Linked DNA regions of Homo sapiens. The protein of the gene in region 2 purifies or fractionates together with the protein of the main gene of each other region. This does not show direct contact. Each region holds a gene or a part of one and is shown on either strand. Other genes may lie near its edges. The genes, in order: LIN28B and ZNF385A.

Region 1 (3,821 bases), on a different chromosome or scaffold from region 2:
CTGCATTTCATATTGTCTAGCCAAAGGAAACCACCATCATGTAGAATATATTAAATATCAGAAATATAGGCTATCTTGCAGTTTGAATTATCTGCAGAATGTACTGAACTGAGCCTTCAGCATTAAGCACTGAATAGTTCCTTGACCACCTTTTCCACCAGACTGTTCTGAGACCCCAGTTGAGGAGTTGAAGTTCCCAATAGATAGAGGTGCCCCTTTTTACACCCAGAATTTGCCAAACACCTCACCTCTTTTTTCAAATGAAAATGTACCTATTGTTTTGTCTGTTTTTGAAAGACAGCTCACGTATAGAAAGTCCAAATAATATAAAAACCGTAAAGAGGAAAAAATCACTTGAAATCCTAGAGGTGGGAATTATAATATATATGGTATTTTGAAACTTGTAATTTTTTTCACCTAATAGTATATTATAGAATATTTCATGTCAATTGTTATCACTTCATAAATTTTACTATTTGAATGTACCAAAATATAATTTAAAGAATAATATGTTAGTGGATATTTAGGCTACCTCATGTATTTTGAATTGATCAATAACACCACTGTGGGAACTCTTAGATGTACATTTTTGAAAAGTTGTCTGATTATATCTTTAGGGTAAATACTTAATAGTGAAAATCTGGATCAAAAAAATATGTATTTTAAAAATTTCAATACCTAGTTCTAAACTACTCTCCAGAAATGATTAGCGGGCCAGTATGTAACACCTCTGAAAGTGAGACAGCTCATTGAATGTTGTCTTTTTAAAATCTTTTCCAGTTACATAGGTTAGAGATGTAGCTCATTGTTTGTTTGTGGTTTTTTTCACATTATTTGATTACTTTGGAGGTTGAATATATTTTATATGTTTTCATTTTTTTCTTCTAAGAATTGTACATTTCTTGTCCATTGACCATTTTCTATTGAGATGTTTGTTTGTTATTATTGATTTCTAAGTTCTCTTGATATATTTAGGATATGAATCTTTCTTCTCAAATAAAAAATAAGAAATTTTTTTAGCTTATAAAATATATTTTATCTTTAATGATAGTTTTTAAAAAGTATTTTGAAGTTTTGAATTTTTTACAGACAAGTCTGTGACTCTCCTTGATGTTACCTGACTTTATTTCATTTTCCAAACTACAAAATTAAAAATATGCTATATTCATTTATGTTTTTAGTATTATTTTAGTTAATTTATATTTTACACTTAAGTATCTCTTCTCTTTATAATCTAATTTGCTTTTGAAGAAAGAACTGTAAAGGTCTAGGTTTTCTTTTCTCTCCAAATTGGTAACCAGTTATCTCTGTAGCACTTGTTGCCTATTTCATATTTTCCTATTGGTTTGAAAAGCTATCCAGTGAAACAATAAATTCCATTTTCATTGACATTTTTAGGAGCTCATTTTGTACAAAAGAAAGTCCATGAATGTGTGTGAAAGTTTAATGATACACTTAGCTATTAAAGTGGTTTTCTGCTCCCATGGAGATAATACCTGCATACATACTTAAATACGTACAAGTAAAGCAAAGTAAAATAAAACAGCCCTTTATTTTTCCATGTCTTTTAGATAAAATCTTTAACAAAGTAGTTCTAGAATGCTTTACATTCCAATTCTGGGTTGGAATCAGTATGTGAGGGAGAATAGTGGAGGTTGAGATTTGAAGAGTAAGATGGCAGGACATTTTTTCATATTGGATCTTGTCAACCATTTTAAGGACTTTGATTCTGGAGAAAATAGGAAGTCATTGGGAAATTTTAGGTTGAAAAGTAACATGATCTGATTTACTCAGAGTATCATTCTGGCAGCTGCAATGACAGCACAATGTGGAGAGGCAAGGATAGAAGCTGAAAGACCACTAAAGAAGAAGTTCCAATAATACAGAAAAGAGCTAGTGGTGGTTTGGACAAGGGTAGTAGCAGTAGAAGTGGTGAACAAAAATTCTGATATGTTTTGAAGGAAGAGACCATAGAATTTACTGATGGATTGATTAGATTTGGACTATCAGAGGAAAAGAGTCCAGGGTGACTCCAAGGTTTTTTGGCCTATACAACAGGAAAGATGAAGGGACTATTTATCAAGATGGGGAAACCTACAGAAGGAGCCTGAAATCAAAAGTATAGTTTCAGACATTTAATTAGAGATACATAATGCACATCCAAGTGAAGATGTATATTAGGCAGATGGATGCACTATATGGAGTTCCAGCACTGGAGTTAAAAAATTGGCAACATTTAGCAAAAAGATGATATTTACAGCCACAAGAGGAGATAAGATCACCATCACAGTGAGTATACATAGGTAAGAAGAGGACTAAGCCCTGGGGCACTCTAGCATTTAAGAGTCAAGAAGAGGGAGGAACAGCAAAGGGCACTAAGTAAGAAGGTGGGAAATAGGAGGGAAAGTCAGGGAAAGAAAATATTTCAAGAAAGGGTATCAGGTATGTTAAATGGTGCTGATGGTGAAATGATCAAGTAAGATAACCATTGAAACTTGACCGCTTAGCAACACGGAAGTCATTATTGAGGTCTGAGGTTGACAAGAACGGGCTGAGTGGACTGGTGGGGGTGAAAGCCTTCGTGGGTTGTGTTCAATACAGAGAATGAAAACAGAGGAAGCAGAGACAGCAAGTTTAGACAATCTTTTGAGAAGTGTTTCTATAATAAATGGGAGGAAAGAAACAAAGCAGTGGCTAAATGGAAGAAATTATAGCATGTTTATATGTTCATAGGAATGGTCTAGTGCAAAGGAAAGATTGAACATGCAGGAGAGAGGAGAACGATTACTGGAGTGATTTCCTTGAGTGGGTGACAGTATTGGGATTTAAAGCACAACTGGGGGAGCTGATCATGTGAGTACAGAAGGTTCATTCTTACAAACCTGGAGGAAAGGCGTAGCTTATGGGCACAGATGCAGGTGGTAGATAGATATGAAGGTAGGATAAGGCGAGATTTCTCTTTTTTATGCTGGTTTTTTTTTTCTTTGAATTTGAAGCACGGTCATCAACTGAGAGTGATGGTAGAAGAGTAGGTTTGGAAATTTAACAAGAAAGACGTATAAAATAGAAGAATGAACACATTATAGAAAAGAGGTAGAATTTCAGGCTGTGCCAAAGACCCACATAAGAATAGTGGGTACGAATTTAAAGTCAGTTAATGTGATTGTGTTTTTTCTCCAGCCATTGTTGACTTCATGGCTACAGCTGTAAAACAGTCATTAAAATGATTTAACTAGAGTTGAGGTTTTTCCTAGTTGAGAATGACAAAGGGCACTGGAGATGTATGCAGGGCAGCAAATGTAATGATGGATGATAGAATATAAACTGTATAAAGAGTGAAGACATTGAAAAGGTGGTAAGTAAACACATGGGGTGTGGGTTGCAGTGGAGTCAAAGAATTATAGTTGGGGTACTGATCTGGCAAGGTACGAGGTGGTGGTGGTCAGAAGTGAATAACTGTTCCAACTCCTTACTCTTACTGTGTGTCTTATTGTAATTAAAGCTTTGACACACTTAATATCTAATAATTTCCAACTTTCTATTAAGCTAAGGGTGTCCATAATTTTTGTCACTAGGATTAGCAATTCCAGTTTTCCATGTGCTGCTTGTTTTTACAAAATGGTGTAGAGACAACATACAATAAAATATTCAATAAACATAGAGACTCCTGCATAGAAACTGACACCATGAGAAAACAAGATTTGACAGTGTGGTAGCAAGAAATGGATCTTTGTCAGCTGATGGCTGGAACAGTTACCAAGGCATGATTTGCTCCCCAAATGTTTAAAAAACTTCAAAGATCTTTGATAACTTTCTTGATT
Region 2 (3,821 bases):
CCCAGGATCCCTGATGCCTGGGCTCTGTCCTGACTACTTCCCCTTGGGTCTCATTTTCCCTGAAGCCTCTGTGGACACCCTGGAGGACCCTGGCCCCGAGCCCAGCTCTGGGGACAGAAAACAGCAGTGGAGACAGCTGTCAAAACAGAACCATTTGATGGGGGAGGGGAGGGTAGGGCAAAAAGTGGGAAGGGCTATCTGCTGTTGGCTCCCTGCCCCTCTAGTCTTCCACCATCCACCAGTGAGTGGAGCCAGGGTTGATAGACAGGATGCCTGGGGTCCAAGCTAAAGCAGAGGCCTGATGCTGGGTTAGTCCTGTCTTCCCTTCCCCACCCTGCTCCACTCCCATGTATACCCCTGCTAAGAATGTACCATCCTGGAGGCACAGGGTCACCCAGACAAGGGCAGAAATAAAAGGTGTGGATAGGCAGGAAAAGAAGATTGACAGCCCAGGGGTAAAGTAGCAGTGTGCAGAGCCCAGTAGTATGGAGTGTGTGTGTGTGTGTGTGTCTCTGTACTGGGTAGAGAAACAGAACATGCTTTTATTTTCCCCTACTCAGCAGAACGAGGCTCTGCTGTTTTTCTCCAAAAGCTCTCAGGGCCTGCACCCCACAAAGTCCCCTCTAGAGCCACACACACTCCACAGAGTCCCAGTGGAGCCTCAGAGGGAGGAAATCTGGGAGGCTGAACATCTGGGTTTTGGGTTTGGGGTAGCTTCTCCCCAGGGGAAAGCCCCATGGGATAAGAGTAGGGGCCAGGCCTTGTGTGTGATTTGGAGGGAGGAGAGTAGAAATGGGGTGGAGAGAGAAGGAAGCCAGAAAGTTAGAGCGAAGTGGGTGGGCCAAGGAGGAGTTTAGCAGAGGCCAAAGAGGACAGAGGCTCTGTGGGGGAGCCAATGACCTAACTCTGCCCCATACCCAAGAACCAGTGGGCCAGAGGCCACACTCCTGCTCAGACACTGATGGCCACCTATGTTCCAAGAAGCTCTGAACCACGGATGCCCAAGTCTCAAGGGAGGGAGAGGTCAACTTTAGAGGACTGATCTACTTCATGTCAAAATACACAGCAACTTCTTGTGTCTCTCCAGTGCCTTCCACAAGACCCTGCCCCTCCTGCGGTATCCCCATTCCCTGCTCTTTGCCTAATATCCCCTTAATCCCTGCCCCTCAACCAGAGTAAGTGTTCTCACCCAGCCTCTGCCCTCCCTCAAGTTCCCCTGCTGCCCCTGCCCCACCCACTGGGTAGATGAGCAGCTTGGCTTCTTACCTGAGAATTGAAGCGGATTTGACAGATATTACAGGAAATGACGGGCCGCTTGGTCTTGAGCAAGGGTCCCCCAAAAGTGTGGGAGAGCACAGCCTTCTGCACAGGGTCCATCTGTGGAGGCAGGCTGGGGTGAGCCGGGAACCCTAGCGCAACTCATGTCCAGCATTCCCCCAACACAGATATCTGTGTTGAACCAAGGTCCCCAGACCCCTTCTATCCCTTAATATGCCTGAGGGATCTGAGCCTCAGTCTTCTGATTCTCTCTTAGCCCAATCTTCATAGCACTGAAAGGGACCTGATCGATAACTGGCCCAATGCTCCCATTTTACAGGACATAGAAGTGGTTTGCCCAACGTCACACCATGAGTTAATAGCAGATCTGGTATCTGAACCTGGATTCCTGCCTTGGTCCATCATACCATGAACATACAACTGTGTCACCTTGACTTATCTCCTACAGTGAAGCCAATCCACCAGAGGCCTCTGACATGAAGTCCCAAAGCACCCTAGATCCTAGGGCCTTCAGCTGAAGCCTCTGAGCCCTTTGGGCCTCCACTCTGGGGTAAGACTATCACCAAGCCCAGCCTCTAGTCCCAGGAGACAGATGTTCCCAGCCTCCCAACTCTGGATCCCTGGTCGCCCTAACACACACACTCTCTGGACCTCTTAAGGGCAGCAACTTCTAGAGGGAGTAAAAGAACTCAGGAGAGAGTAGGAGCTCTAGTGAATCATGGGGACTAAATGGGGGGACCTAAGCAGCTGGGCTGGCCCGAGGCAGCCCAGGGATCTTCTGAACCTTTTCTCCCTGATCATCAGGGTTTCTAGGGCAGAGCTGTGGGGCTGGGCGGGATTAGGAACCATCCCTGTCCCCACCCTGGGTCAGCAGACGTCTTTGCAGTCTCCTGCCAAGAGTTCACATGAGTAAGGGAGAGGACGGGAGTTTCTCTGAGGCTTTCTGCTATCAGGGGATGAAAACCAGGGGCTCAGAGGTGTGAAAACTGCCTCCCTCAACAGTTCTCCTCCCTTTTGGCCTCTAGGCAGCTAGGGAGAGGAAAGCCTGGAATGCAGCTGAGACTGAAGATTGGGGGATGGCTGGGCTCTCTCATAAGAATGGGACTGAATTAGGACAAAACCTTATCTTCTGGGTGGAGGGATCAAGTGAAAAATAGTTGCTGGGGACTTGGGGTCCTTATCTCCTCAGCCGAGCCCATCTCTGTGACAGGTCTTTAGGGTTTCCAATGAGACACTGGTGAGAGAACAAGAAGTGGGGGAAAGTAGTAAGAGTCTGGAAAGCCCTGTCCTCTGGACTCTCCTTTCCTCTCACCAGTAGTTTCACTGGCTGGGTGGGGTTAATGTCAGGAAATGGGCTTTCGTATCCCTGTGAAATAGATGGTGGCCTCATCCACTCTCCATTTGGGTAGTGCTGAAGGCAGGGACCAGGACTGGGTTCAGACAACTGGTCTGACTGACAAGTGTCAATCTCTTGGCCTACTCTTGGTTGGAAAGAAGCCTCTCTAAGGGCTCACTTTTTTTTACCTCAGCTTCCCAGAAGCCCCAGTCACATCCAGGGAAAAGCCAAACAGGAGAACGGGTGTGTCTGTGTGTGTTAGGCAGGCTGTGATCAATCTGTGCATGGGTGGAGTGTGAATAAGTGTCATGTACTGTGCGTACATCATTTATATATCAACATTTCTGCGTCGGGGGCTTTGATGGCACCATGAATGGTCAGGTGGTGTAATCTTCAGCTGTGTGTTTATCTGTGTAAATGTATGATGTGTTTGGCAGAAAGAAAGACAGACCAAGTTGGAGACAGTCTTTAATCAGAAAGGGGAGACAGACTGCTGCTCTCAGTTCCCAGTCTCCAGGCCTTAATCCTTCCTATTTAGAGACCCCCAACTCTGTTCCAGAGTTCTCCTCAGCCCTGGGCTTCCTCACATGCTGGGTGGGGAATGGGAATTCAAACAGAAACTCAAGTTGGGCCAGGAAACCCAAGTTGGATGAAAACAGTAGGGAGAGAGGAGTGGGATGGAAGGGGGAAGCAGAGTCTCCTAGTTCTGCCTATGCTCTGCCCCATCATGCCAGCCTGCTCTCCAGAGGGGCTGAGGACACAGTACCCCGAGGATGACTTGTGGACTGGCCACCCCAACATCCATACCATGAGAATGGTTCCTGCCCTACCTGGGTCCTTCCTCCAGGGTGAGAACCTTAGCTTTTGCACAACCCCCTCCCCTGGTTTAAGTCCATAAACACCAACTAGGAGTGGGAGTGGGGAGTGGGGAAGAGGGCAGCAGTGGAGTCAGGTGGGTGCTTCCCACCCTCCTCCAGGAACTAAGGAGACACCAGGATGAAAGTGAGGACTCCTGGGCCCAATCCCTGTGCAGGTGGAATGTGAGCCACTGAAGTGCTGCTCCAGGCCAAGGTCAGGAGGCCCCGGTGACCTAGATGAGGGCTCCCTGGGGAGGGGTGAAAGCCAGCACCTCCCAGAGCCCATCTCACTCCAGAGCTTCTTCCCTGGGATGCTGGCTTGGACACGGCCTCGAAAGGTCCATAAAACA

What was found.
Region 1: the proteins of ZNF385A (region 2) and LIN28B purify together in Homo sapiens (co-immunoprecipitation; one large-scale study listed by IntAct). This does not show direct contact.

The regions. Positions count from the first base shown.
Region 1 is NC_000006.12:105,026,556-105,030,376, forward strand, and holds part of LIN28B (protein lin-28 homolog B), read left to right. Parts: intron 1-3,821. UniProt on the Homo sapiens protein: Suppressor of microRNA (miRNA) biogenesis, including that of let-7 and possibly of miR107, miR-143 and miR-200c.
Region 2 is NC_000012.12:54,374,578-54,378,398, forward strand, and holds part of ZNF385A (zinc finger protein 385A), read right to left. Parts: intron 1,378-3,821; coding exon 1,267-1,377; intron 1-1,266. UniProt on the Homo sapiens protein: RNA-binding protein that affects the localization and the translation of a subset of mRNA. May play a role in adipogenesis through binding to the 3'-UTR of CEBPA mRNA and regulation of its translation.